Linked DNA regions of Homo sapiens: region 1 is linked to region 2. Evidence: fine-mapped expression QTL. A gene starts in region 2. The other region holds a variant in brackets. All regions are shown on one strand. Distances are between the middles of the regions. Region 1 overlaps FBXO5 (F-box protein 5). Region 2 holds the start of MTRF1L (mitochondrial translation release factor 1 like).

The links. PIP is the estimated chance that this variant, and not a neighbour inherited with it, causes the effect. A credible set is the group of variants that fine-mapping cannot tell apart.
Region 1: its variant is the best candidate, but not a certain one, in a credible set for the expression of MTRF1L in whole blood (INTERVAL, PIP 0.52).

Annotation. Positions count from the first base shown.
Region 1 is chr6:152,958,625-152,973,848 of GRCh38, reverse strand. FBXO5 (F-box protein 5) reads left to right here. Exons shown (of 5, transcript NM_012177.5): 3 at 713-803; 4 at 1,395-1,577; 5 at 2,435-3,314. The coding sequence ends at 2,686. It also overlaps the pseudogene C11orf98P2. Among named protein-coding and RNA genes, the nearest start is that of FBXO5, 17 kb to the left of the region's middle. The variant A/G (reference allele first, on the strand shown) is at 4,096.
Region 2 is chr6:152,992,413-153,008,633 of GRCh38, reverse strand. It overlaps MTRF1L (mitochondrial translation release factor 1 like), which reads left to right and starts at 5,925. Exons shown (of 7, transcript NM_019041.7): 1 at 5,925-6,207; 2 at 10,005-10,084; 3 at 13,315-13,498; 4 at 13,958-14,121; 5 at 15,660-15,777. The coding sequence starts at 5,949. RGS17 (regulator of G protein signaling 17) reads left to right here. Exons shown (of 5, transcript NM_012419.5): 5 at 1-4,175. RefSeq lists enhancers at 5,568-5,677, 4,768-5,768 and silencers at 5,998-6,107, 6,118-6,177.

The sequences.
Region 1 (15,224 bases), 34 kb after region 2:
GAGTCTCGCCCTGTCACCAGGTTGGAGTGCAGTGGCACGATCTCAGCTCACTGCAACCTCTGCCTCCCGGGCTCAAGTGATTCTTCTGCCTCCTGAGTAGCTGGGACTACAGGCGTGTGCCACCACGCCCAGCTAATTTTTGTATTTTTAGTAGACACAGGGTTTCACCATGTTGGCCAGGAGGGTATCTCGATATCTTGACCTCGTGATCTGCCTGCTTCAGCCTTCCAAAGTGCTGGGATTACAGGCATGAGCCTAAACAGCTTCTTGAGGGACAGTCAAATCAGTACCACAGATTCTACTTTTTCTGTTAACATAGTGAGTTTCTAAAGTTGATTTCTAATAGCAGTGTGCCTAGAGTACTTTGAAATTTGTCTATTACTTTTACCAGATAGCTAACATGGTATCATATATACAGTGGGGGCTACTATTTGATGTTTGCAGATATTGTGAAAAAATACTGTACAAAGCAGTGGTTCTTAAGCCTCAATGCACTCAGAATTACTTAATGAGGAGGGAGCTTTTTAAAAATACAGAGCCCTGAGCTTCATTTTAGACCAGTTAAAACCGCCAGGCAATTGTAATGTGGTCAGGTTTGAGAAGCACTAATAATATAAAATATCTTTTTGCACTGCTGATGTTTTTCTACTGTATTCATCTTAGCTCTTTGTGATGCTTTAATTATTTCATTTATGGTGATTTACTTTTCCAGTGTGTCTAAAGTGAGCACAACTTGGAAGAAGATCCTAGAAGATGATAAGGGGGCATTCCAGTTGTACAGTAAAGCAATACAAAGAGTTACCGTAAGTGTTTGCAGATGATGTTTTTAGTTAAAAATGCACTGTTAGTGCTCTTCTAGAAATAGAAAAGAAAAGAGGTAATCTGGAAACCCTTCTTTACAGTCATAAAGTATTTCAGCCTTATACTGGAACTTAGAAACCACATTCAAAAATAAAGAAATCTCAACTCAACATTTATTTCTTGGATTCTTCCTAGAAATAGAATGTCTAAAGTAACAAAGGGAAAATTACTCATTTCTCAGATAGAGTCGACCATTTAGTCAATCTTAGTTGCCAGTTGTGTGTATGTGTATTTTATAACATCTGGAAAATTTGGAAAAGCTGTTTTACTTTTTAGGTATTAAGTACCATATAGACTGCATCTAAAGTGATTTCCCATAGTATTTGGTTCACAGTTTCTGTCTATAAGTTAGGCTTGATATGTGTGAGTATTTAGGTTTTGCTTTGTTTAAGTACGTGCAGGTAAATTGCATGTAGGGATAAGTCTCTTACCTAATCTTGTTTGTCATTTCTTATATGTACAAACATAAAAATGTCTCATTGAGGATACAGGAAATAATTTCTAAATTCTATTAAAACTTTTTTTTAAATTAGGAAAACAACAATAAATTTTCACCTCATGCTTCAACCAGAGAATATGTTATGTTCAGAACCCCACTGGCTTCTGTTCAGAAATCAGCAGCCCAGACTTCTCTCAAAAAAGATGCTCAAACCAAGTTATCCAATCAAGGTGATCAGAAAGGTTCTACTTATAGTCGACACAATGAATTCTCTGAGGTAATTTTTTGTCTAATCATAAATCTTAAAACATAAGAGATTTAGAGTAAGAAATGTAAAAGAACTTTCAAGGTCAAAATGTAACTTTGCTCTAGATAATAACTAATTTATTCTCTGACATTAAGAAACCTGATATTAATGATCATTTAAATTTAATTATAGTATAATTAGAACTATTAGGGATTTCATTAGTGTCCTCTTCATTTCGCTCTCAATGTGGAAAACAAAAGAAACATGAAATTAGGAAAGTACGTAGAAATGTATTTCTATGAATATTAGGTACTGCTTGGCATTGTTTGAAAGTTCAGTGATTTTGAGTTCTAATTTAGAAACACTGAAGAAATAATGAAAAACCTAGATTTCTTATAAAATTACTCAGTACTACATTTTGCATTTTCCGCTTTTAAGAACCGAGGAAGAGAGTTAAGTGGAAAAAGGCAAGCTTTCTGAACTTGAAGGCCTTCTATTATACCTTCAGATCAGTGAATGATGTGTGCTAAAATTTCTACTCAAATGTAGATAACTTTGCAAGCTTAATTTAGATAACTTACCAAAATTATAGAATATTTTCTGATTCATGTTGATCAGTAAATATAAATCCTACATAATAAAACTATTCTTAAATTTTATGCCATAATGACTAATGCAACATACAGATTTATTCAAAAAGCATTTATTGAGCATCTATCAGATAATGCATAGATAAAGGGCAATAGTTAGGGCAGTAGTTATCGTATGTGTGACAGTGATATTTCATACATGAATTGGGGAAGGTGCAAGGGTGTCCTTGGTTTTATTAACTAAAGTACATGTAATTCTTGCTGAAATTTGTTAATGGGTTTTTTTTTTCTTTTTAGGTTGCCAAGACATTGAAAAAGAACGAAAGCCTCAAAGCCTGTATTCGCTGTAATTCACCTGCAAAATATGATTGCTATTTACAACGGGCAACCTGCAAACGAGAAGGCTGTGGATTTGATTATTGTACGAAGTGTCTCTGTAATTATCATACTACTAAAGACTGTTCAGATGGCAAGCTCCTCAAAGCCAGTTGTAAAATAGGTCCCCTGCCTGGTACAAAGAAAAGCAAAAAGAATTTACGAAGATTGTGATCTCTTATTAAATCAATTGTTACTGATCATGAATGTTAGTTAGAAAATGTTAGGTTTTAACTTAAAAAAAATTGTATTGTGATTTTCAATTTTATGTTGAAATCGGTGTAGTATCCTGAGGTTTTTTTCCCCCCAGAAGATAAAGAGGATAGACAACCTCTTAAAATATTTTTACAATTTAATGAGAAAAAGTTTAAAATTCTCAATACAAATCAAACAATTTAAATATTTTAAGAAAAAAGGAAAAGTAGATAGTGATACTGAGGGTAAAAAAAAATTGATTCAATTTTATGGTAAAGGAAACCCATGCAATTTTACCTAGACAGTCTTAAATATGTCTGGTTTTCCATCTGTTAGCATTTCAGACATTTTATGTTCCTCTTACTCAATTGATACCAACAGAAATATCAACTTCTGGAGTCTATTAAATGTGTTGTCACCTTTCTAAAGCTTTTTTTCATTGTGTGTATTTCCCAAGAAAGTATCCTTTGTAAAAACTTGCTTGTTTTCCTTATTTCTGAAATCTGTTTTAATATTTTTGTATACATGTAAATATTTCTGTATTTTTTATATGTCAAAGAATATGTCTCTTGTATGTACATATAAAAATAAATTTTGCTCAATAAAATTGTAAGCTTAATGTATACCTTTTATAAACATTGTAATCCTGGAAACAACTGAATTAGGAAGCTGCAGTAGACTGCGTTTGTGTGAAGGCATTGAATGGATTTTTGTGATGGTTTTTCTGGGGAGCTTGTGAGATTTTTGGGCAGTACCCTGATCCCGGTTTTTCCCACTTAATAGCTTAATTCAGTAGTTGTGGGGTTGGGTCTTGAGATAAACATCTCGAGATGATTCAATACAGGAAGGCCATAAAAGACACTGATAAATACTGATGTGCTAATTTGTCTATCACTAAACCAGCTGAACTATGGATTAAATAGCACCCCATCCCCCTCAAAAAGCTAGAAGGATTTAAATTGTATAGAATAAGATGCCATCTTGGCTGCAGTCAAACATTTGTGCTAATAACAAGAGCCCAGAACAAGGATGTCTTTATTCCTTAATTCCAAAGTTAGTTATGTTTCAGTTTCAATTACGAATATGGGGAAATCCTAAGAGGCTGAATTCAGACTAGGCCCTCCAAAGATTCAAGGGTGGGCCTCGGATGCTATCAGTTGGGCCCCAAAGATGTTTAAGGGCTTTGCCTTTCGTCTCAACAAAAACCTAAGGTAGAGGGTCCCTCCTGTCAACTCCCAGGCAATCACTGATCTTTGTCACTGCAGACTTTTCAAGGATTTTCTATAAATGGAGTCAGTTTGCTTTCACTGAAGGCTATTTTGACACTCATCTGTGCGTGTGCATCAGTAGTTAATGCTCTTTTCTTACAAGGCAGTATGCTGTTGGAT[A/G]TACCAGTTCACCAGTTGATGGATGTTTGGCTCTTTACTCCATTTCCTGCTGTTACAAGTAAGGTGCTGTCAGTGCAATCAAATTAGAACTCAGGATTAAGAAACTCACTCAGAACCGCACAACCACATGGAAACTGAAAAATCTGCTCCAGAATGACTACTGGGTGAATAACGAAATTGAGGCAGAAATAAAAATGCTCCTTGAAACCAATGAGAACAAAGACACAACATACCAGATTCTCTGGTATCATTCTCTGGACACATTTAAAGCAATGTATAGAGGGAAATTTATAGCACTAAATGCACACAGGAGAAAGCAGAAAGATCTAAAATTGATACCTAATATCACACCTAAAATAACTAGAGGAGCAAGAACAAACAAATTCAAAAGCTAGCAGAAGACAAGAAAGAACTAAGCAAAACTGAAGGAGATAGAGACACGAAAAACCCTTCAAAAAATCAGTGAATCCAAGAGCTAATGTTTTCAGAAGATCAACAAAATAGACCGCTAGCCAGACTAATGAAGAAAAGAGAAGAATCAAATAGACGCAATAAAAAATGATAAAGGGGATATCACCACCGATCCCACAGAAATGCAAACTACCATCAGAGAATAAACACCTCTACACAAATAAACTAGAAAATCTAGAAGAAATGGATAAATTCCTGGACATACACTCCCTCCCAAGACTAAACCAAGAAGAAGTCGAATCCCTGAATAGACCAATAACAAGTTTTGAAATTGAGGCAGTAATTGATAGCCTACCAACCAAAAAAAGTCCAGGAAGGGACAGATTCACAGCTGAAATTCTACCAGAGGTACAAAGAAGAGCTGGTACCATTCCTTCTGAAACTATTCCAAACAATAGAAAAAGAGGGAATTCTCCCTAACTCATTTTACGAGGCCAGCATCATCCTGGTACCAAAACCAGGCAGAGAGACAACAAAAAGAATTTCAGGCCAATATCCCTGATGAACATCAATGCAAAAATCCTCAATAAGATACTGGCAAACTGAATCCAGCAGCACCTCAAAAAGCCTATCCACCATGATCAAGTCGGCTTCATCCCTGGGATGCAAGGCTGGTTCAACACATGCAAATGAATAAGCGTAATCCATCACAAACAGAGCCAATGACAAAAACCACATCATTATCTCAATAGATACAGAAAAGGCCTTCAACTAAATTCAACAGCCCTTCATGCTAAAAACTCTCAATAAATTAGGTATTGATGGAACATATCTCAAAATAATAAGAGCTATTTATGACTATCCCATAGCCAATATCATACCAAATGGGCAAAAACTGGAAGCATTCCCTTTGAAAACCGGCACAAGACAAGGATGCCCTCTCTCACCACTCCTATTCAACATAGTGTTGGAAGTTCTGGCCAGGGCAATCAGACAAGAAAATAAATAAAGGATATTCAATTAGGAAAAGAGGAAGTCAAATTGTCTCTGTTTGCAGATGACATGATTGTATATTTAGAAACCCTGTCGTCTCAGCCCAAAATCTCCTTAAGCTGATAAGCAACTTCAGCAAAGTCTCAGGATACAAAATCAATGTGCAAAAATCACAAGCATTCCTATACACCAATAACAGACAGCCAAATCACAAGTGAACTCCCATTCACAATTACCACAAAGAGAATAAAATACCGAGGAATACAGCTTACAAGGGATGTGAAGGACCTTTTCAAGGAGAACTACAAACCACTGCTCAAGGAAATAAGAGAGGACACAAACAAATGGAAAAACATTCCATGCTCATGGATAGGAAGAATCAATATGGTGAAAATGGTCATACTGCCCAAAGTAATTTATAGATTCAATGCTGTCCCCATCATGCTACCATTGACTTTCTTACAGAATTGGAAAAAACTGCTTTAAATTTCATATGGAACCAAAAAAGACCCCGCATAGCCAAGACAATCCTAAGCAAAAAGAACAAAACTGAAAGCATCATGCTACCTGACTTCAAACTATACTACAAGGCTACAGTAACAAAAAGCATGGTACTGGTACCAAAACAGATATATAGACCAATGGAACAGAACAGAGGCCTCAGAAATAACACCACACAACTACAACCATCTGATCTTTGACAAACCTGACAAAAACAAGCAATGAGGAAAGGATTTCCTATGTAATAAATGATGTTGGGAAAACTGGGTAGCCACATGTAGAAAGCTGAAACTGGATCCCTTCCTTATACCTTATACAAAAATTAACTCAAGATGGATTAACGACTTAAACATAAGACCTAAAACCATAAAAACTCTAGAAGAAAACCTATGCAATACCATTCAGGACATAGGCATGGGCAATTACTTCATGAACAAAACACCAAAAGCAATGGCAACAAAAGCCAAAATTGACAAATGGGATCTAATTAAACTAAAGAGCTTCTGCACAGCAAAAGAAACTATCATCAGAGTGAAAATGCAACCTACAGAATGGGGGAAAATTTTTGCAATCTATCCATCCGACAAAGCGCTAATATCCAGAATCTACAAAGAACTTAAACAAATTTACAAGAAAAAAACCCCATCAAAAAGTAGGTGAAGGATATGAGTAGACATTTCTCAAAAGAAGACATTTATGCAGCCAACAAACATACGAAAAAAAGCTCATCATCACCGGTCATTAGAGAAATGCAAATCAAAGCCACGAGGAAATACCATCTCATGCCTGTTAGAATGGTGATCATTAAAAAGTCAGGAAACAACAGGTACTGGAGAGGATGTGGAGAAATAGAAAAGCTTTTACACTATTGGTGGGAGTGTAAACTAGTTCAACAATTGTGGAAGACAGTGTGGCGATACCTCAAGGAACTAGAACCAGAAATACCATCTGACCCAACAATCCCATTACTGGGTATATACCCAGAGAGTTATAAATCATTCTACTATAAAGACACATGCACACGTGTGTTTACTGTGGCACTATTCACAATAGCAAAGACTTGGAACCAACCCAAATGCCCATCAATGATAGACTGGATAAAGAAAATGTGGCACATATACACCATGGAACACTACGCAGCCATAAAAAAGGATGAGTTCATGTTCTTTGCAGGGACATGGATGAAGCTGGAAACCATCAATCTCAGCAAACTAACACAAGAACAGAAAACAAAACACCACATGTTCTCACTCATAAGTGGGAGTTGAACAATGAGAACACATGGACATGAGGGGAAGGGGGTGGCATCACACACCAGGGCCTGTTGGGGCTGGGGGACTGGGGGAGGGATAGCATTGAGAGGTGACAGTGTGCTGGCAGTCCTCACAGCCCTCGCTCCCTCTTGGCGCCTCCTCTGCCTGGGCTCCCACTGTGGGGGCACTTGAGGAGCCCTTCAGCCCGCCACTGCACTGTGGGAGCCCCTTTCTGGGCTGGCCAAGGCCGGAGCCGGCTCCCTCAGCTTGCGGGGAGGTGTGGAGGGAGAGGCGTGGGTGGGGACCGGGGCTGCGCGCGGTGCTTGTGGGCCAGGGCCAGTTCCGGGTGGGCGTGGGCTCAGTGGGATTACAGTGAATCTATAGACCAATTTATACAGAACTGACATTTAGCAACCTTGAGTTTTTCAATCCATTAACATAGAGTTCTTCCACTGATTTCCATATTTCAAAATCTCTCTTAGCAAAGTTTTATCTTTTCATTGTATGTCTTGTGCACTTTACATCAGATTTATCCCTGTTTTTTGTGCTATTGTAAATGGCATTTTAATTTCAATTTTCAATGATTTATTGCTAATGTATTGAAATACAATTTATTCTTATATTGATCTTGTATTCTCCAACCTTGCAAACCTCAGTTATAATTGAAAGTCTATCACTTGTTCTCTGTAGGTGATTTTTGTCTTCTACAAATAAATACAGTTTTATTTCTTCCATTTCAATCTATATGGTTTGTATTTATCTTCCTTGCCAATTTGTACTGGCTAAAACCTCCAGTAAAATAGAAATAAAAAATGTTGATGAAGATACCCTTGCCTTGTTCCAGATGTTAGGGGAAAACATTCAGAATGATGTTAGCTGTAGGTTTTTCACATATCCTCTTATCAAGATGATGTTCCATTTTATTCCTAGTTTGTTGAGAATTTTTATCAGAAATGGCTGTTGGATTTTGTCAACTTTTTTTCTCCATCAATTCATATGACCATATGGTTATTCTCTCTGGATTCGTTAATATGAATTACACTGATTGATTTTCAAATGTTAAAGCAATCTCGCATTCCTGGGGTTAATGCCACTTCATCACAATGTATTATCCTTTTTAAACATTATTATATATTTAAATATGTATAAATATATATTTGTTAAGAATTTGTATTTATATTTATGATGAATATTGGTCTGTAGCTTTCATACAATGTCTTTGGGACATATTCTTTTCTTTTCAATTTTCTGGATGTTTGTGTAGAATTGGTATTATTTCTTCTCTTACTATTGCTGGAATTGTACAAGGGAACCATCTGAGTCTGTCATTTTCTTTGTGAAAAGATGTTTGAAATACAGTTTTTTAATAGATAAAGGGCTATTCAGGTTATCTATTTCTTCTTGAGTGAGCTTTAGTAGTTTGTATATTTCAATGCATTTTTAATTTAATTTATTGTATTTATTGGAATAAAGTCATCACAATATTCTAGTATCTTTAATATTTATAGAATGTGTATTAATGTCATCTCTTGCATTCCAATATTGATAAATTCTGTCTTTTCTCCCCTTATACTGATCAGTCTGACTACAGGTTTATCACTTAGATGGATCTCAAATAACTCATTTTTGGTTTCAGATTTTTCCCTGTTTTTCCTTATAATTGATTTTTTGTTTTATTTCTTCTGTTTCCTTGTGCCTGAAGGACTTTAATTTGCCCTTTTTCTACATTCTTTTTCTGGATTCTTAAGGTAAATGTTGAGTTCATTGATTTCAGACCCTTATTCTTTCCTAATATAAATATTTAGTCCTAAAAGTTTCCTCCAAATTCTATTCTAGCGGCATACCACTAAATCTGATATTTTGTCCTTTTCTTTTTATTCATTTGTAAGTGTTCTATAATTTTCCTTTGGATTTCTTCTTTGATGTGTAGGTTATGTATAAGTCTGTTATTTACTTTTCCAATATTCTGGAATTGTCCATATATCTTTTTATTAACTTCTAATTTCATGGTGGTCAGAGAAAACAGTTGTGTGACTCAATTCTTACAAATTTATTGAGTATTTGTTTTTGGCCTATAATACGCTCTATGAAGGGAATATGGTGTGTTTTGCTGTTCTTTGGTAAAATGACCTATAAATATCAATTGGTTCAACTTGGTTGATAGTGCTCTCCATATCTTCTATATCCTTACTGATGTCTATCTATTTGTGCTATTATTGAGTGAGAAGTATTCAGATCCCTAGCTGTAATTGTGGATTTGTCTATTTCTTGTAATTCTATCAGTTTTTGCTTTTAAGTACAGATGCTCCTCAACAATGTGGTTATGTCTGGATACACCCACTGTTTGAACTTACAGTGTGTTTATCTGTGCACAACTTCATAAGTCAAAAAGCATACTGAATGTGTATCCCTTTTGCACATTGTAAAGTTGAAAATTTGTAAGTCAGAGGCTGTCTGTATTTTGAAGCTCTGTCATTAGTTGCATAAATATTTAAGATTATTATGTTCTCTTAGTGAAATGAACACTTTATCATTTTTAAATGACCTTTTTATCCCTGGATGTGGCTTTTCTATGGAATCTACATTGTTTTATATTAAAATAAGCACTCCAGTTTTGTTTTGTTTTTTGAAATTAATATTGGCATAGTATATTTTTTCATCCATTTTTAACTTTTTTTGTAGTTTTCTATGGTAGTGTGTTTCTTACAGACAGCATATAGTCAAGTATTCATTTATTTTTTTAATCTACTTCAAAAATGTTTGTCTTTTGAGATAATTAGACAATTTTCACTTGATGGGATTATTGATATGGTTGGATTTAAACCTACTTTCTTGATATTTGTTTTCTATTTGGTAATTGTTCTTTATTCCATTTTTTTCTCTTTTTTGCCATCTTTTGATTATTTTTATGGTTCCTTTATATCTAGTTTATTAGCTAATTAGCTATAATTCTATTTTGTGATTTTAGCTATTACCTCTGGATTTATAGTATTTCTTTTTAACTTGAGTCTAGCTTCAAATATTATTGTACCCTTTTATATATAGTATAAAACTGCCATACTATTTCTTCCCTCTAAGCTTTGTGCTGTTATCATACATGTTAGTGCAATATATATGTGTATATATATACACAAATATATACATACACTACATTATTTTTGTTTCTTTGTTTATCATCTAAGATATTTATGTAATGAGAAAGTTTTCTTATACTTGTATTTGCCCACACAGTTGTCATTTCTGGTATCTTCATTCCTTTGGGTAGAAATAAATATATTTCTATCTGATAAAACTTTCCTTGTGCCTGAAGGACTTCCTTTAATTTTTCTTATAATACAGATATGCTGGTCTTTGATTTTTTTCAGCCTATGTACATGTGAAAACATCTTTATTTTTGTCATTTTGAAGTTATTTTTAATTAACAAATGATTCTATATATTTATGGGGTACATGATGCTTTGATATATGTACACACACACACACACTGTAGAATGATTTAACATATCCATCACCTCACATACTTATCTTTTTTTTGTGGTGAGAACATTTAAAAATCTATGTTCTTAGCAGTCTTCAAATATACATACAATACATTATTATTCACTATTGCCTCCATGCTTCACAGTGGATCTCCAGAACTTATTCCTCCTATCTAACTAAGCTTTTTATCCTTTAACCAATATTTCTCCATTTTCCACCTCACTATCACCCACCCTAGTCCCTGGTAACCTCCATTCTACTCTGATTTCACATAAAAGTGAGATCATTCAGTTTGTCTTTTGTCTTTCTGTGCCTGGTTTATTTCACTTAGGATGATGTCTTCCACATTCATCCATGTTGTTGCAAGACTGCCATGTGGAAGGCAAGATATCTTTCTTTTCATAAGGCTGAATAGTATCATGCTATGTATATATATCACATTTTCTTTATCCATTTATCAGTTGATAAACACTTAGGTTGACTCCATATCTTTACTATTATGAATAATACTGAAATGAACATGGAGGAGGGAATATCTCTTCATTTCCTTTGGTAACATACTGAGAAAGATAATTGTTGAATCATACAATAGTTTTATTTTTAATTTTGGGGGGAACCTCCATACTGTTTTCCAAAATAATTATGCTAATTTACATTCCCACCAACAATGTACTAGGGTTCCCTTTTCTCCACATTTTTGTTAACACTTGTTATGTTTTATTTTTTTGATAAAGACTATTCTAGTGAGACGATATCTCATTGTGGCTTTCATTTGCATTTCCCTGATTGATTATTAGTGATGTTGAACATCTTTTCATATACCTGTTGGCCATTCACATGTCTTCTTTTGAGAAATATCTATTCAGGTTCCTACCCATTTTTTAAACTGGTTGTTTTCTTGCTATTGAGTTGTTTGAGTTTCTTAAATATTTTGGATATTGGCCCCTTATCAGATATGTGGTTTGCAAATATTTTCTCCCCATCCCATAGATAGTCTCTTCACTCTGTTGATTGTTGCCTTTGGTGTGCAGAAGCTCATTAGTTTGGTGCAATCCAATTAGTCTAATATTGCTTTTGTTGCATGTGTTTTTGGGGTTGTATCCAAAAAATTTTTGCCAAATCCAATGTTAAGAAGCTCTTTCCCTCTGTTTTCCCCTAATGGTTTTATAGTTTCAGATCTTATATTTAAGACATTAACCCATTATGATTTGACTTGTGTACTTGGGACAAGATTAAGGGTCTAATTTCATTCTTCTGGGTGTTGATATCTAATTTTCCCAACATATTGAAGAGAATGTCCTTTCCTTATTGTATGTCCTTGACAGCTTTGCTGAAAATCAGTTGACTGTAAATGTGTGGGCTCTGTTTTCTATTTCTTTGGTCTATATGTCTGCTTTTATGACAGTATGGGCTGTTTTGATTATTATACGTTTTTGGTACATTTTCAAGTCAGGTATTGTGATGCCTCCAGCTTTGTTTTCCTAAAAATTGCTTTGACTATTTGAGGTCTTTTGTTTTCCTATACAAACTTTAGGGTTGTTCTTTTCTATTTCTGGGAAAAGGTCATTTCACTTTTGACAGGGATTGCACTGAATCTGTAGATCACTGGGGTAATATGGACATTTTAACAATGTTAATTCCTCCAATCCATGAATACTGTATATATTTTCATTTGTTTTTCTCTTAAATTTATTTCATCAATGTTTTATAATATTCAGTGTATGGATCTCTCATACACTGAATGTATTTGGTTAATTTTATTTTTGGTTAAATGTATTTCTAAGTTTTTCATTAATGCTATCACAAATAGGATTGTTTTCTTGATTTCTTTTGTGAATAGTTTGTTGTTAGTGTATAGCAATGATACTAATTTTAATATGTTAATTTTGTATCCTGCAACTTTACTGAAATCAAAGCCAGTCAAGGACATTACAAAAAAAGACAATTATAGGCCAAAATCTCTGGTGAACATACATGCAAAAATCCTCAACAAAATACTAGTAAACTGAATTCAATAAGACATTAATAGGGTTATTCACCAAGTTTTTCACTTGATTTTGTGCTGCTATAACAGATTATCTGAAACGGGGTAATTTATAATGAACAGAAATTTATTGGCTCACTGTTCAGAAGGCTGAGAAGTCCAAGATCAAGGGGCTGACATTTGACAGGGACCTTTTTTGCTGCACTCTTTTATGACAAAAGGGCAAAGAAAATGCAAGAAGGCTGGGCGCGGTGGCTCACGTCTGTAATCCCAGCACTTTGGGAGGTCGAGGCAGGCGGATCACCTGAGGTCAGGAGTTCAAGACCAGCCTGGGCAACCTGATGAAACCCCGTCTCTACTAAAATACAAAAATTAGCCGGGTGTGGTGGTATGCACCTGTAATCCCAGCTACTCCAGAGGCTGAGGCAGGAGAATTGCTTGAGCCTGGGAGGTGGAAGTTTCAGTGAGCCAAGATCGTGCCATTGCACTCCAGCCTGGGGGTGACAGAGCTAGACTCCATCTCCAAAAAAAAAAAAAAAAAAGGGGGGGCAAGAGATTGAACTTGCAGCCTGAAGCCCCTTTGTAATCAACCTTAATCCACTTATAAGTGGTGGAGCCCTTATAGCCTAAACATCTTCTATTAGGTTCTACCTTTCAACACTATTAGATTGGAAATTAAGTTTCCAACAAATGCTTTTAATTAATTAATTTATTTTTGAGAGAGGGTCTCACTCTGTTACCCAGGCTGCAGTACAGTCGTACTATCATGGTTCACTGCAACCTCAATCTCCCAGACTCAACTGATCCTCTCACCTCAGCCTCCCCAGTAGCTGGGACTACAGGTGTACACCACCATGCCCAGCTAAGTTTTTGTTATGATTTTTTTTTTTGGTAGAGACAGAGTCTCACCATGTTACTCAGGCTGGTCTTGAACCCCTGGGCTAAAGCAATCCTCCCACCTTGGCCTCCCAAAATGTTGAGATTACAGGTGTAAGCAACGGTGCTCAGCCCACACATGCTTTTTTGAGGACACATTCAAACCATAGCCTTTTTGTTCCCTTGGGCCCCAAAATTCATGTCTTTCTTGCAAAATACATGCATTTCATCTAATAGCCCCCAAAAGGCTTAAATCATTCCAGCATCAACTCAAAAGTCCAAAGCCCAGAGTCTCATCTAAATAAGATATAGGCTAAAGTCAAGGCAGGATGGCAAGGAGGCAATTTACTTCAGGCATGAGCCTGTGGAATCAAGCAAGTTATGTGCTTCCAAGCGTTATGTGCTTCCAAAATACAGTGGTGGGACAGGCATAGCATAGACATTCCTGAGGCAAGATAGGTAGTCAGGGAAGTAACCATGTCTTTGGGATTCAGCGACTGCACCACAACAGCAAGCCCCACAACCATGTCCTCGGGAAGTGAAAACCACACCAATACAACAAACCCCAGGCGGAAGTACGGACCGCATATTGGCGTCGCCGAGCAACTGTGGGGGATCCCGGGGGGAAAAATCAACTGGCGCCGAACCGAGCTGAAGAAAAAGCTGATCAGCGCAGGCCGGTGTTGAACCGCAAGCAGCGTCTGAGGCACTGGGTGGTCGAAGCTGTGATAGATCAAGCGCTGATCACGCGGCACCACCTCAAGAAGCAGGCATCCAGTGCACGTGCCAACATTACTCTGTAGGGGAAGAAGCCTAGAAAACTCCTCCGGCAGATCCGGCTTGCCCAGATGGAGAAGGCAGCCATGGAGGTGGAAGCCCGTCAAAGCCAGCCAGGACTATCGAACCACAGCTCAAAATGCAAAAGAGGACAAAAGTCCCCCAGGACATAGAAATGAAGGACCTTGAAGATGAGAGCTAAACCTCTTCCACTAGAAGATTCTCAACTGGAGCCCAAAGGACTCAGTGGTTGTTTCAGAGGATGTTGACAAAAGCAGTGCCCCTTTTCACTCTCCATATTTCCTCCTTTCTAATGGCCTACTGACTTCCCCTGGAGGGATGTCTTTGGGAGAGAAGAGGGTACAGAAGAAAGATTGGAGAAGGGCCTCTCTAGCAGTCAACTCCATTTGTGATAAAACCCTGGCACTCTGGAAAACAAACAAACAAAGAGCACTCACTACTGGCTTCATAATCAAGCACAGAACTATCCTCAGTAGGAATTTTTCTTTTTTTCTTTTTTTTAGAGATGGAGTCTCGCTCTGTCGCTTAGGCTGGAGTACAATGGCATGATCCCGGCTCACTGCAACCTCTGGCTCCCAGGTTCAAGCTATTCTCCTGCCTCAGCCTCCGGAGTAGCTGGGACTATAGGCATGCGCCACCATGCCTAGCTAATTTTTGTATCTTTAGTAGAGACGGAGTTTCACCATGTTGGTCTCGAACTCCTGACCCAGTGATCCACCCGCCTCAGCCTCCCAAAGTGCTGAGATTACAGGCATGAGCCACTGTGCCTGGCCAGGAAATTTATCCTGTAGACAGTATGCACATTTTAATTTTACTTGTCCGCAGACTGACTC
Region 2 (16,221 bases):
TAATGCACTTTCTATAGTGCCTAACTTTAGATGTATCTATAAAAGAAAGTAGAGGATACAGATTATGTATATATAAATAAATTGGAGAGCCAGATTTCTTCAGAGATTGATCTTGTACATTAATCACACCAGTAATGGATGGATGGCACTTCTTTACTCGGGCTGTTATGATGTTATCCAAAGGTAGTAGAGATGCTCTGACAGTGTTGGAGTGTGCACATGAACAACAAGAGCAAAACACAACTTTGATACTAAAGTTACGAAATGCAGAAGTCAAGACCATAATGTGATGTTTTTTTTTTTTGAAATCTTAAAATATGTACATAGAATGACCAGTTCTGATATGCCGTCTTAGTGCATGGATGTTTATTAGTATCCTTTAATGCTGCCTAGGTTCTGACTTACAGAATGAAATACGTGTTGTTTATCTACCTGATAGTTCAGTTTTGCCAAAGGACTATAGGGATAAGTGAATAATATTTATTTATTAGGAGCAAAAATACATTTTCATCCCATTAAGCTAATTTAAAATAATGCCTGATTTTTACTTTTGAGTTTATCCATTTTTCTATACCTTTAACTTATTTATACTTTAAAAAATCATATTGTAATTGTGACAAATTATATCTCAAAAAATACCAATTATTAGATGCTTTGGTGTTGAAATGTAAAAGAGAAGGAATTTAAAATACAATCAAAAAAGTCAAAAATAAAACGTATTTGAAAACCACCTAAAATTTCTTGGCCAGGCACAGTGGCTCAAGCCTGTAATCCCAGCACTTTGGGAAGCCAAAGAGGGCGGATCACTTGAGCTCAGGAGTTTGAGACCAGACTGGCCAACATGGTGAAACCCCGACTCTAGTAAAAATACAAAATTAGCCGGGCATGGTGGTGGGTGCCTTTAATCCCGGCTACTTGAGAGGCTGAGGCAGGAGAATCGCTTGAACCCAGGAGGCAGAGGTCGCAGTGAGCTGATATCATGCCACTGCACTCCAGCCTTGGCAACAGAGTGACTCCATCTCAAAATAATAATAATAATTATAATAATAATATTTTTAAGTCTTAGACAGAAAATGCCTATAGATAGAAGCCTATCAAACATGTATTTTGAATACTTTGATCTTGACACATTGCCTAATTATTTTGAAAGATGGTAAAGATATTTCCAAAAAATATTTTCGCCTATCTGTTTACATTGACAGTTTACAACCATAATTTTCTAAGTATATTTTTCAAACATGTATTTTTGTGTTTTCCATCTTCAAATTTCTGACCAATGGGTTTGTTCTCCTGCAAAAACAATATCCAATCTGCAAAAATTTTTAATTCTTCACTTGCTACAACTGCAAATATTTATCAATAAAACTGATAACCCAAAACTTGCTTCAGATTTTCCCTGCAGTGCTTAAAATATCCTTGCAACACAAGATGGTGCACAATGACAAGTATTATTTCTGAATACCCAGATTTGATTTATTTATAGGTATTTTTGAAATTATTACTCTTACAGGTGTAGTCCTCTCCAGCCCCAAGTAACATCTTTTCAGATGAATTCAAGAGGCTGTTCAAGACTTTGACTCTACTGAAAACACTACAAAAGGCAAAATGTTGCCCTAGGTGATAGAAGGTCCCAGTTTGGGAACTGATTTTCTTCCTATGACAAAAGCTATAAGATGAGTAAGGTTACTAATGGAAATGTATGTCCACAGATTCACTTAGGGAGCATAGTGTAAAAACATCAGGAACTTAAAATTACAAATTTGATTTCAAGTTATATTTCTGTCTCATGTGACTTTGGGCAAATCATTTATCTTCTCTGAGTTCATTTCCTCATCTGCAAATGACAAATAAAATACGTAATTATCAGGATAACTATGAGCATTAAATAAAACAAACGTGGAAAGAATAAAGTGTGGCATACATTATTATTTTATCAAAGTGCATCACGTCAATAATTGTTATTGTATACTTGTATTAAATGTCACTTTAATGCACTTTCCCCTATTTTTTTCCAAAACATACGTTAAACATCTGATTTAGCTACTCATCAAAACATACAATCATGTTTTAAGATGGAACACTATATCAGTGTTACTGCTTTTCTCAATAATGTGATCCCAAATCAGTACTTTCAGTTCACCATCACCTCAAATCTATAGAAATGTTTCTTTCAATGACATAGATAGATAGATGATTGATAGATAGATGATAGATAGATGATAAATGGATATACAATTATAGGTTAAAATTAAAGTTTAAATAAGATCAATCATTTGAAAGTTTTATTTCCAAAGGAAATAAAACAACATTCCCAAGGACAGAAATAATATCAAATTACTTGCTAAATATATAAATGAGTTATAGGGCTAAGACTAAGTTATAAGAGATTGACAATTAGAAAACACTCTTTTTAATATTAAGGTGGTATGATTTTCTTTAACAATTTTACAATGAAAATAAAAACTTAATAAAAGGTGGTAATGGGCCAGGCACGGTGGCTCACGCATACAATCCCAGCACTTTGGGAGACTAAGGCGTGAGGATCACTTGAGCCCAGGAGTTCCAGACATGTCTATGCAACAAAGTGAGACCCTGACTCTAAGAAAAAAATAAAATGTATAAAATTTAAAATAGTAATGTGTCCATTAAACCTTTTATTTTAGAGTAGTTTTAGATTTACAGAAAAACTCCAAATAGAGAGGTCCCATATACATCTATGGGCATTAATGAGCCAATATTGATCATTACATTCATACTTCATTCAGATTTCCTTAGTTTATAACCTAATGTCCTTTTTCTGTCCCAGGATCCCATTCAGGATACCACATTACATTTAGTTGTCATGTTTCCTTAGGCTTCCCTTGGCTGTGACAGTTTCTGCAACTTTCCTTGTTTTTGATGACAGTTTTGAGAAATAAACTGGTATTTTGTAGAATGTCCTTCTATGGGGATTCGTCTGATGTTTTTCTCGTGACTAGACACAGGTTTTTGGTTTTTGAAAGAACACAACGGTAAAGTGCCATGCTCATCACATGGTATCAAAGGTATATGCCATCACCGGGACTCGTCTTAGCTGTGACAGTTTCTCAAACTTTAGGCTACTCTTAGCTGTTGATGTTAACCTTGATCACTTAGCTGAGGTAGCATCTATTATATTTCTCCACTGTAAAGTAATGCGTTTTTAAAGAGATTATATTGAAGGTAAATTTTCTGGACATTTACACTGAGCTAAACAAATTCTAAACACTAATATTAGGTTCCACTAAGTGATTACTAATAAATGCTATAAAGAAAATACAGTGAAGTGGAAAAATAAAACTCCAGAAGTCTTAGCCTGAATATTCACCTAATAGAGGTGAAAGTGAATTTTTCCCTTGAACTGTCTGCGCAATTTACAATAATCCTCCACATACTTTGGATATTAAAGATCTTATCTTACTAATTGTCATAAGAGGTAATTTAAATTTAAACTAACCATTTTGCTTATTGCATTTTTATATTGCCCTCCACTAATCAATGAACACTGAATATTGAAATAATGTAAAAGACCTATTTCCCGCTAGCTTTAACCGATTTGTCATAAACACCTTTCTTGTATATGATTTTTAAATGTTTGCTAAATATTAAAAAGAATTCAATGTGTTTGGTTTTGTAAAATTACATATCGAATGTGTATAATTTTTTACTACCATGTTCATCACACTTAATCTATATCCATATATTGTACTCCACCAATATTTATCAGTGGACAATAAAGAAGTTTTGAATGCATGAATGCAACTTAAGAGGCACCACACTTGGTTATTTTGCAATGCCAGAATAACGGTGGGTATTCACAAATTGAATAGATAATCCAGATTATGTTTCCTCCAATTTAAGTTTTTCTGGGTTTTTTTTTCCCCCTTCCTAGAATCAATTTTATCATTTTACCTATGTACAATAATATACTTCTGGAAAATGCTAGAATTTTCACCATGTAACAGAATTTGAGCATGACAGTAATGTAAAAATATTCAGAAGTCTCGAACTATAGGTTTGAGTTTTCAAAGTAAATCAAAATACAGCTGTTTTCATTTTACTAGATTGTGGAAACCTATGGATGTTATTGTAAAATGCATATGCATTACACTGACTTTCTTAAAATGTTTTGAATTAATAAAGAATTCAACAATGTATCCTTAGAAAGTTACTGTTTCCTCATTGGTATATAACACTATAGGAATAAAAGGTACACTTCTATGTGTTACTTAAATTGCTTATGCACTTGGGGGAAAATAAAATTCTGGCTAGATTCTTTACATTGTTCTATAAGGTTTTAATTATTAAAATGTTTCACCTTTTATAAATAATAAAATATATTGTTGAAATGACTTATGTTCTGAGAACTCAACTGAGAGATATACCATGTTGAGTTCAAGTGATTCTCACCATTTCCATGGTTAAGATAAATTCAAAGTTAAGTTCAGACTTGGGAAACAATTGTTCTAATAGAGATAAAAACATCCTGATCAGTCCTGTTCTATCCTCAGATCAGGATTAAAATAAAATGGGTTTCAACAGCAGAACGATTGTATAAAGTTGTGTAGCTTGAATACACAAAGTGAAAAGAACTGAGATAATTAGGTGGAGCCTTTAAGTAGCAAAAAACTATTTTTGCTTCCTGATGTTTGAAGAGTCATTTCATTCTTCCACTCACTCTGCATTTGTTATCGTGCTAAGAGATGAAAAGAGAGAGGCAATGCAAACGTTATTTTCTAAGAATGTTTATACTTAACAGTTTCGATTAGATGACCTAAGGATATTTTAACCTTGATAAGGGTTCCCATTTTTTACCATTTTATTTTTTATGAATAAATTAGAAGTTTCGTACTTCTAATATATCACCTCTCTCAACAGTGAAATACCACTTAGTAGACGCTGCCCAAACCAGTTAGGTAGTGGCAGTTCTCAGATTGAGCGTTTAGCCCTTGCATTCCCAGGACTGTCTTGGTTGTGTTTATTCCCTCATATTTATTTCTCCGTTGAGCTGTGAACAGGTCTTTTGAAAAGTGCAAAGCATTGTGCCAATAAATGTCGGTATTGCTGGCACCTATCCGCTACCAGTTCTTTGGAAAGGGATGAGGGTTGGACTCCTGGAGGCAGATATCTGAAGGCTTTGTTGGGCTGTAGGTTGCTGTAACACGGAATCACTCCACCTCTTTAAAAAGCTGACGATAAGTGGGACTAAGTGAAAATGAATGGGCAGGTGAATAATAAAGTCCTTTGAAAGCAAGTAAATGACGCGGCAGATGAAGGGCACGCACGTCTATTGTGCAAATTCATTCAGTGGTTATCTCATAATACACTTATCAAGTCCTTATTACCACGAACCTCACCCACCGTGGACAAGAGAAACATAAGCAGGAAAAAAGGAGGAGGAATAAACACACGCCTGTCCATAATAAAACTCGCTCTTGAAGACTCAGCGGCAGCCCTGCACCGGAGACTGACGACTTGCGCGGCTGTGACCTCCGCCCTGCAGCGGACCCTCGACTGCCCTGCACTGCGGCTCTGGAGGCCCCGACTCAGTGCATGGGAAAGAAATCCTCACTATCAGAAAACAGAGGGGCAATCTGCTGCTCTCCCTTTCCGGCCAAACACGTCACCCATCAACCGGATACCTACCAAGAGGCTTTCAGAGGAGGCGCCCAAGGTCTCCCAGGCCCGCCCCTCCCCAATCACGCTCCGCTCAGCCCCCTCAACTTTTGGCCTCCGGGAAGTTCGCAGCGTTCTCACGCTTGGCAGGAAGTTCCCGCCAAGGCTTCCGGAAAATCCTTTAAAAAGCAACGCTTGCGCTGGGCGGGGCTTGGTGCGCTCTCACCCTTATCTCCAAATTCTGGGTGTTGTCGCGAGGGCTGCTGTGTCCGGAACTTCCGGTTCCGGTCAGGGTCCGCGATCTCGGACTAAGGATGCGGTCCCGGGTTCTGTGGGGCGCTGCCCGGTGGCTCTGGCCCCGCCGGGCCGTTGGCCCAGCCCGCCGGCCCCTGAGCTCCGGTAGCCCGCCGCTGGAGGAGCTGTTCACCCGGGGCGGGCCCTTGCGGACCTTCCTCGAGCGCCAGGCGGGGTCTGAAGCCCATTTGAAGGTCAGGAGGCCCGAGTTGCTGGCGGTGATCAAACTGCTGAACGAGAAGGAGCGGGAGCTGCGGGAGACTGAGCACTTGCTGCACGGTAAGGGTCGGGCCCGGGGGAGAGGCGTCAGAGCACATTCTTGACTCTTCGTTTGACTTTTCCACTGCCCACACTACCCGAGTTTGAAACTCTTTACTCACTTGCAGCCGTTTTTATTTTGGATCAGAGGTCAGGACATCATTACGTGCTGTGATCCCATCCTCTCCTGTGGGCTCTCTTGTGCTCCTTTGCCACGGCGCTCTGCCGCCTTTTACATGCTTATTAGTTGTGGACTCGGGCAAGAGCTCATTAGCTCAGCAAGGATAAATAAGGCACTGTCCCTGTGATGGGCTCCACAGCGGTGTTTCTCAAAGTGTGGTGTGGAGACCCATTTGCAGTAGTATCAGGGCAGTGCTTGTTAATAGCAGACTTAGGACTCAGAATCTCAGACCTATACGTGGGTAAAGGTACTAAATTGGGAAATTCAGTATGGCCTAAGTATAGAATAGGTGGGAGATGATGTCATAGAAACATGAAGCCAGAAAAATAGTTAAGAACCTTGCAAGACAAAGAATTTGGATTTATTTTTTATAGACCATGGAAAGTTAGCAAATGTTTTTAAGCAGAGAATTCACGTCTTTGTAAAGAAAAGTTAATGGTGGCATGCGCTGAGGATAAATTGGAGTATTCTCCAGAAACGCTGGTGGCTGACAGGCCAGGGAGGAGGCAGTTGAAACAATCCAAAGAAGAAATGGTGATAGGCATAGTTCTGACTCACAAAACATTTTGAGAAACAAGTTAGGATTTAGTGGCTTATGCCCTGAGAAGGATGAGGGAGAGAGTTAGTTCTAAGAAAAGTCTTAGGTTTCTGGCTTCAGCACGAGTGGTACTGTTAATTAAGATGAAAGTATAAAAGTTGGACCGAATTTTTTAAAAAGATGAGTTTTGCATTGAATGCCATATTAAGTTAAAAATACCTGTGAAAAGGAATTCCAATAAAGATATCTGTACTAGTCTAGGAGAAAAAATTACTGACATAGGAGAAAAATTGAGCCCAAATAATCATATGAGAGCTCTCGAGATATACAGTACGTGGTAAATTAAACCTTAGAAGTAGATGAGAACACTCAGGGAAAATGTGTTAAGATAGAAACAAGTCTAACAAGGCCAGAAATACACAGTATTTGAGGAGCAGGCAGAGAAGAAGGCTATAAAAGGTCAAGAAAAAAACAGCCAGAGCTTTGTGACCCTGAAGTAGATAAATAAATGAAGCTGTAGAAGCCAATAGAAAATTTCAAGAAGTAAGAGATCCTTGGCCAGGCGTGGTGGCTCACGCCTCTAATTCCAGCACTTTGAGAGGCTCAGGTGGGCCGATCACTTGAGCCCAGGAGTTCGAGACCAGCCTGGGTAACATGGCAAAACCCTGTCTCTACAAACAATGCAAAATTAGCTGGGCATGGTGGTGCGTGCCTGTGGTCCCAGCTACTTGAGAGGCTGAGGTGGGAGAATCGCTTGAACCCGGGAGGTGGAGGTTGCAGTGAGCCAAGATGGTGCCACTGCATTCCAGCCTGGGTGACAGCGCAAGACCCTGCCTCAAAAAAAAAAAAAAAAAAAAAAAATCCGTAGTACCTGACATAGAAAGGTAAAACAACCTTTTCAGCTCACACTGAAATAAGTCTTTAGATTTGGCAATTTTGTCATTGGTAACTTGAATAAAAATGGTCTTGATATGATTATAGAATCCAGTGTAACAGCTTGAGAGGTAAATTAGAGTTAACAGGAGAAAAGTTATAAAAATGGCATTTTATCTCCAGAAATCTGGGTGGGAAAAGAGGGGTGACAATAAGCAGCTACTTAAAGGGTTGAAAAGAAAAGGACCCATTTAGAATGGGAAACCATAAACATCTTTATAGGCAAAGGGGAAGGCAGGCACATGGTAGGTGTCCAGTAAACATATGTTGATTTATAATATTCAAGAGAAATTAAAGAAGTAGTATATTACCATTGCCTGTGAGTAACTCCTAATTCTAAACCCTTTAGAGCTGCACTGTCCAATATAGTAGCCAGTAGCCACACAGCTGTTGAGCAATTTGTGGCTAGTCTGAATTGAGGTGTGTAAGTGTAAAATACATATAGATTTCAAACACCTGGTATAAAAAGTAATATGTTTATGTTAATTACATGTTGAAATAATATTTGGAGCATATTGGGTTAAATAAAATATAGTATTAAAATTAAATTACTTCTAGACTCTAGTTCCAATCTCCTTAGCTTTGCAGAACTGAAAGGCACCTTAGAGATTATCCAGCTCAGAACTTTCATTTCATTCTTGTCATAACTGAAAGAAGTTGAGCCTATTGCCCTAACAGTACCTTAGCGATTAAGCTAGGGCTAGAATTCATTTTTGCTTTTCCTAACACATTTTCCATTCTACCAAATTTCTTCCATACCATATGCTTGCCAAAATAATTTTCAGCAGTGCTTCCTGTACTTGCTTATCTCAGTTTTGCTGTTGTTATTCTCTCTCCTTGAGTTAATCTTTTTTTCCTTTTTCTGCCCATTCCAAAACCAACAGATTCCTTCAAGGCACAACTGTTTTAATATTTAATCACATAGTGTATTAGTCTGTTTTCACACTGCTGATAAAGACATACCCAAGACAGGGTAATTTTTAAGAAAAAGAGGTTTAATAGACTAACAGTTCCACGTGGCTGGGGAGGCCTCCCAATCATGGTGGAAGGCAAAAGGCACGTCTTACATGGCAGCAGACAAGAGAGATAACTTGTGCAGGGGAACTCTTCTTTATAAAACCATCAGATCTTGTAAGACTTATTCACTATCATGAGAACAGCACAGGAAATATCTGCCCCCATGATTCAGTTACCTCTCACTGGGTCCCTCCCACAACAGGTGGGAATTGTGGGAGCTACAAATCAAAATGAGATTTGGGTGGGGACACAGCCAAACCATGTCACATAAGGGTTTAGGTTATTTTTTGTTTTTCTCTTCTAGAAAAATATAAGGAAACTAAAATTATCTATAATGCTCTCTTGAGGGCAGGTCTTATATATGTATTATCCCACTTCCCAGCATGGTTGTTTCTTAATAGATAAGCATACAAACTGATGCTTTGTAAGGGTTTGAACTTTCAATAGAGAGAACAATTTGTTAATAGCCAGAAATTTTCCCTTTCCTCCTCCTTTATATATGCTGCATATCATCTATAGGGTAGAGGAATGAGAAAGTATGTTTTATAAGGTAAAAATGAAAATTCAAAGATGAAACAACAATAAAGGTAAAGCCAGAGAGAGAGACAGAGGAGTACTTCGTATAAACATTCTGTATACATTAGGCAGAATCTAATAAATGTTTTTGGGTGGATACTAAAATACTAATGAAACATTTGCTTATAAGAGAATAAATTTCTACTTTTTAATTGAATTTTAGTTTTACTGGTGTAACCTTCTGTATCCCTTCTGTCTTATTAGCTAAATGCATTCGTTATTATACAGTCTAAGTTGGAAGTCTAAAAGCATATTTATTAAGGTGAATATTTCATGGAGATGAAATTATGGAAGAGTTTAGCTTCTTTATATTTTTATAGAAATTTGTACTTGTACTTTATCAGAAAAAAAATTTTATACTTACATGCTTATGAAAACTAATGTATAAAATGGTGAAATTGATTGAAAGGACATTTATTGAAAGGCATTTATTGAATGGTATTTATTGAAAGGACAAGATATACATTTTATTTTTCCCTTCAGCTATAATAACCATAAAACTATTTCCTAGAAGTCTGCTAGCAATTTAACACTAATTAAGGAAAACCTTAACTTCTGCCCTTTTTTTCCTAGATGAGAATGAAGATTTAAGGAAACTTGCAGAGAATGAAATCACTTTGTGTCAAAAAGAAATAACTCAGCTGAAGCATCAGGTATGGTATTTCTGCAAAGAATAAAGCATTTGTGCTATTCTTAGGCATTAAAGTTTATTAAAGGTTTATAAAAACAAGTGACTAGCTTGTTACTGTTTAGAATAAACTGGGTTTTTTAAATTTATTTTCTAGATTTATTGAGGTATAAATTGACCCCCAAAATTGCATATATTTAAGGTATATGATGTGATGTTTTGATATATGCATACATTTTGAAATGATTATGACTATCAATAAACTGGTTTTTAAAGAACAAACTTCACATGGTCCTGTTTTCATCATACTAAAAGTACTGTAGCGCTCTCACAGAAAGATAAATGTCACAGTGATAGTATTTTCTGGAAAGGCAGCGAAATAGTGGCATATCTTCCCTTTTTTTTTTTTTTTTTTTTTAAGAAGACTGGAGGTAGACATGGGGCAGAAGAGGTTATATGAAAGGACTTCAAAAGTTTGTGGAAAACTGGAATTAAAAGATAAAAAAATATATATATAAACTTTAATTTATTGACATAAGTGCCACCAGCTATCAAGTTCAAGACACTTTGGTAAGCAAAAAGGTGATATACCAGCATTTAATGCATCCCTAAAGAACTGAGGGTCCTGGGAATTTAACCATGTCAATGTAGTCTTTTTTATATTATTAACTAAAGAACAATGGGTACCCTTTACAAAGTTTTTAAGATCAGGAAACAAAAAAAAGGAGGAGCCAAATAAGGACTGTAACATGAGTGCCTATGGATTTCCCATTGAAGCTCTCAAAATTGCCTGTTTGATGAGAGGAATGAGCAGGAGCACTGGTGTAGGAGAGGACTCTGGTGAAGCTGTCCCTGGTATTTTGCTAAAACTCTGGCTTTCTCAAAACCCTCATAGTAAGCAGATACTGTTCTTTGGCCCCTAGAATGTCAATAAGCAAGGTGCCTTGAGAATCCCCAAAAAGACTATTGCCATGACTTTTGCCCCTAGCCAGTCTGCTTTTGCTTTGACTCGACCCCTTCCACCTCTTGGTGGCCATTGTTTTGATTGTACTTTGTCTCCAGGATCATACTGGTAAAGCCATGTTTCACTTCTGGTTATAATTCAAAGAAATGCTTTAGGATCTTGATCCAATTTGTTTAAAATTTCTATTGAAAGCTCTGCTCTTGCCTCCAGCTGATCTGCATGCAAAGGTTCTGGCACCCATCCAGTGGAAAGTTTGCTCACCTTTAATTTTTTTGTCAGAATTTTATAAGCTGAACCAGTTGAGATGTCTGTGGTTTGACTATTGTTTCTTCTGTTAATCATCAGTCTTCTTCAATTAGGGCATGAATAAGATAATTTTTTTCCTCACAAATTGATGCAGATGGTCTGCCACTGTGGACTTCTTCTTCAACATCATCTTGTCTCTACTTAAAATGAGTTATCCATTTGTAAACTGCTGATTTCTTCAGGGCATCATCCCCATAAACTTTTCATAAAGCATCAATGATTTCACCATTCTTCCACCCAAGCTTCACCAGCAATTTAATGTTTGTTCTTGCTTCAATTTAACAGAGTTCATATTGCTCTGATGGGGCTCTTTGCAAACTGATACCCTTTTTAGTACCTCAAACTAGAGCCTGTGACTTGTTATAACAAGTTAGCACGAGTTTATTTTGTTACAAAATAACTTTGAAATACAACTTCTTGAAGTCCCCTGTTAGAGTGATAGTAGACTGTGAGCTCCTCAGGGCCAGGAATACTTATTTTGCATCTCTGACACTATTTGGAATACCAGACCTAGAGTAAGCCCTCACGATTTTAAGAATTGGATTACATTGCTTTGGTTGTACATCTTTGTGAATTACAGAACATATAGAGTTAATGAAGAATAATTATATGAAATTAGAGCCACTCTTTGCTAATTCTGTAAAGCAGAGACTAAAGGTTGACAGCAATTACCGTTGGGGATAAGTGAAAGAATATGTTAGGTAAGGAAGGAGCCAGGAAAGGGGGTACTTATTTTTGAGAATCTGCTTCCCCTTTAGGCAAATGTGAAAATTACTAAAAATTAATGTTCCTATAACCTATGTTAGAGGGGGAGAATTCCACTATAAGGTGAAAAGTGTAGTATAGCTCGCATTTTACCCATTTTCTAAATTAAATTTTGTGTGAATAAGAAGGATATGTGTATTAAATGTTTCTGTTCAGTGTCTAGTAATCAACAAACAGAAGTAAAATCCATTATTTGTTCAAAATTTGAATGATAATGTTGTATTGGCATAGGCTAGAGAGATGGAAAAGTAGTAACTAGCATAGCTTCTGACCAATGTCAAGTGTGATAGCAGTGTACTCAGGTATATTCAGGTTCAATTCTAGCTCTTCCACTTAACTTTTGAGTTGGGTAATGTTGAGCCACTAGATTATTCAACCCCTGTAAAATTAGTTTCACATCTTAAGGTAGAACTGTTAATAATACTTACCCAAGATTGTTTTAAGAATTACAGTATGTACAGTGCTTAGAATGCCTGCCATATATTAAAGAACCAATAAAATGTTGGTAGCTTTTCTTATTAATTGACCTAATCTAAGAAGTGTTTGTTCTAGATCCCCTTGATTAGAAACACACTATTGTAATGGAGGGAAGACTGATCTAGGCACAAAGGTTTGTGTTCTTGTGCCTGCTTGGCCAGTAACTAACACTTTGCCCTTAAACAAGTCATTTAATCTCTGTTAAGCTCTGTTTCCTTTACATGTATAATTAAAGAATTGGACCAGATAATCTCTAAGGGCCTTTTTAGTTTCAAAATTACAAGTTTCTCTTCCATAATAAGAAATCTTAAAATAATACAAATGTAGTTTTGAGTGCTTTTGGTTTTCTGCCATACTAGGCCTTAATTTTCAAGAGGATGGATCTAGAATCTTCTTTTGCTTTCCACAACAGTATAATCTCCGAATCAGAGCAAGTACTTAGTTCTTATTAACTGAAGAGAGAACTGATACAAAGCATACAAGAACTCCAACAGACAATAAAACAAGCCTGAAATTTTAGCTGAATCTTAACAGCATTTATAATATGGTTGTAACATTAATACTTTATGGAAGTTACACATTATACAGTTCTAATTGGCAAGGTGGTTGAACAGTACTCAGCAATATTACATTATTTGCTTGGCGAAACTTAAATATTTAAAATTCCTGAATCATTTAGCTTTTTATTTTTTGATAAATTTTAAATCTTAATTATAGGAGGGGTGATATTTTTATATTTACAGATTATCTTACTTTTGGTTCCCTCAGAAGAAACAGATGAAAATGATTTGATCCTGGAAGTAACTGCAGGAGTTGGAGGTCAGGAGGCAATGTTGTTTACATCAGAGATATTTGATATGTATCAGCAATATGCTGCATTTAAAAGATGGCATTTTGAAACCCTGGAATATTTTCCAAGTGAACTAGGTCAGTAAACTATTCATTTTGTTTCAGGTAAAGTGTTTAGGAAAAGAGTTGGAAAGACCATGACTAGGCTTTAGAACTTATCTGTGAGGATGCTTATGTAGTTTTATGCTCATCATTTACCTAATAAATTTGAATGCACATACAGTAATTTTGAGATGACCTATAAAATCTAATGGAGAGTCTTTCAATAATACTAACCATCAAATTGCTAACAGTCTTTAAAAGTAGTCTTAGATGTGTTACTGATGTCAACTGATTAGCCCCATAAATGCTTTGTTTAGTACTTGTAAGCAGTAAAGATAAATATTAAAACATTGAATATTTTAATATGTTTTACAGTCTCCATGTTCATCTCCTTTTATGACTTTAAAAATATACCTCAAGATAGTAGATGTGATGGTCAATTATTTATAAATGGCAGGAATAATAAAAATAATTCTATTTCCCTGTATTTTCAAGGTGGCCTTAGACATGCATCTGCCAGCATTGGGGGTTCAGAAGCCTATAGGCACATGAAATTTGAAGGAGGTGTTCACAGAGTACAAAGAGTGCCAAAGACAGAAAAGCAAGGCCGCGTCCATACTAGCACCATGACTGTAGCAATATTACCCCAGCCTACTGAGGTAAGGCATAAGCCCCTCTCCTTGGAATCCCGGGCCTAGCACAGTGCCTTGTCCCCAGAGTTAACATTCAGAGTTTACTGAATTGAGTATCTATTTGGTCTTCCTTGTGTATTTTGAGTTGCATATTATCTCAGTCTAAAAAATATAATTTTATAATGCTAAAAAATTAAGGATTTGTAAATGATACAATGTTGCATTGTCTGTGTATTAGTATTTTCCTAATAAGTAGTTATTGTGAGATCATCTCTGTGGGTGAAATAATAACCTATTTAAATATGGACTGGTTGCCTTTATAATGACTTCTGCCTTGTGTGACTGGTTTGTGGGGTATTAACAGCAACAATCCTATTTAACAAAGGTAATTACTTAACAGAATTGCTGCTTCATAACCCAGTTACATTAAAATGAAAGTATATTGTTATACTGTTCATAATGAGTATACTTTATTCTCACAAAGCAAATTCTCAGTCTATATTTTTAAGATAACTTAGTGTAGGAGTTCTGTTTTGCCTCATTTCCCTTCTACTGAAAAGTGATAGCAGATATCTGACTTGTTTTTCAGAATGAAGTGTGAATGCTTTGAGAAGGAACTCTTAGTGGTTCCTATGCTAATTTTGGGAAAAAGTGCTATTTGGCTCTGTAATAGGTTTAATGGAGTTCCTTTCTTTAGGTCTTAGTTTCTTTAGATCTAATTTTTGTGTGAAGCATAGGTGAGAAACTAAGCAGTTAAGGGAGAGAGTAAAGTAGAATAAATGGCAAGAGCCACATCTAGAAACCTAGTCACTTATGTTTAACCATCTTGGGGTGGAAGTTTTCAGGAAAAGATGAGAGACTGAGGTCCATGTATCATCTAATTCCTCTAGCAACCATAAGAGGGAGTCAACACAGGGAGACATAGAGGTAGAAGGCCCAGAGAATGGTAGGATTCTTACTGTCAGCATTGCAGAGATGTCACAGAATGGTTCTTAGTTGTTCATGAAACAGTGCTTTTGATGGTGGCTCCTAGGACAAAGCATTACCTTGACCTCAGATCCCAGTGTGTTGAGGAATTGAGACTCATGACTTCTTGGCCACTCCCATTTCCATTTGGCTCATCTTTGCCTCCAAATATGTTTGAAATAAAACAAAACAGACCCTTCCCACAGTTCTCACGCTACCATTTTTTTTTCCTGCTGCTAGGCTCTTTAAACTCAGAAAAATTTGAAAAAACCTTAAACATTCAGTTCTAAAAGTAGGCAGAATAGTATCAAGTTCTGCTGTTTCTGTGGTAAGAAATGGATAAAGGGAAGCCAGGTTTTTGAGGACTAGAAAGGATTTGTTTTTCAAAACTGTACAGTCCTGTACTATTTCGATTCCCTACTCTTCCAAAAAGCAAAAAAGTTTTAAAATGGTATCCTTCTAGCTACTCTCTAGTCTTAAAATTAAACCTCCCAAATATATGAATTCTGTACATGTTGTATATTCATAAATGGGTCGCTCTTGCCTTTATAAAGTTGATACATGTAATCTTTTAAAATCCCAACTTTTCTTCTGTATAGATTAATCTGGTGATTAATCCGAAAGATTTGAGAATTGACACTAAGCGAGCCAGTGGAGCTGGGGGGCAGCATGTAAATACCACGGACAGTGCTGTCCGGATAGTTCATCTTCCAACAGGTGTGTACTTATTCCTTCAATATATGACACCAAAGAAATCAATTTTGGAATAATATGACTAATTTTCCACTGAAATAGATCCTCGGTTACCAGAGAAGTATATACTTCTAAGGATTGTTATTAAATATTTGATTTACTTAGAATCCTTACCTGATACTCCGTGGGATAACTGCAAGGCGAGGAAGAGGGAGGGATCCAAACTCAGGGAATGTCTGTATTAATTACTATTTATAGAAGGTGTGGATGGTCCTTTCAGGTGGAGTTCTGAGTTTTACACTTAAAAAGAAAATTCTCACAATGAAGTAATTATCATGGGTTCTTTATCAGAAAATGCTCTAAATTGTTGGTTCTGAGCCTTTTTGCAGGGGAGGGGAACATGGCTTCCTTTAAAAAAAAATGATATGAAAGCATTGGACCTCCTACTCAGAAACACATATACAGTTT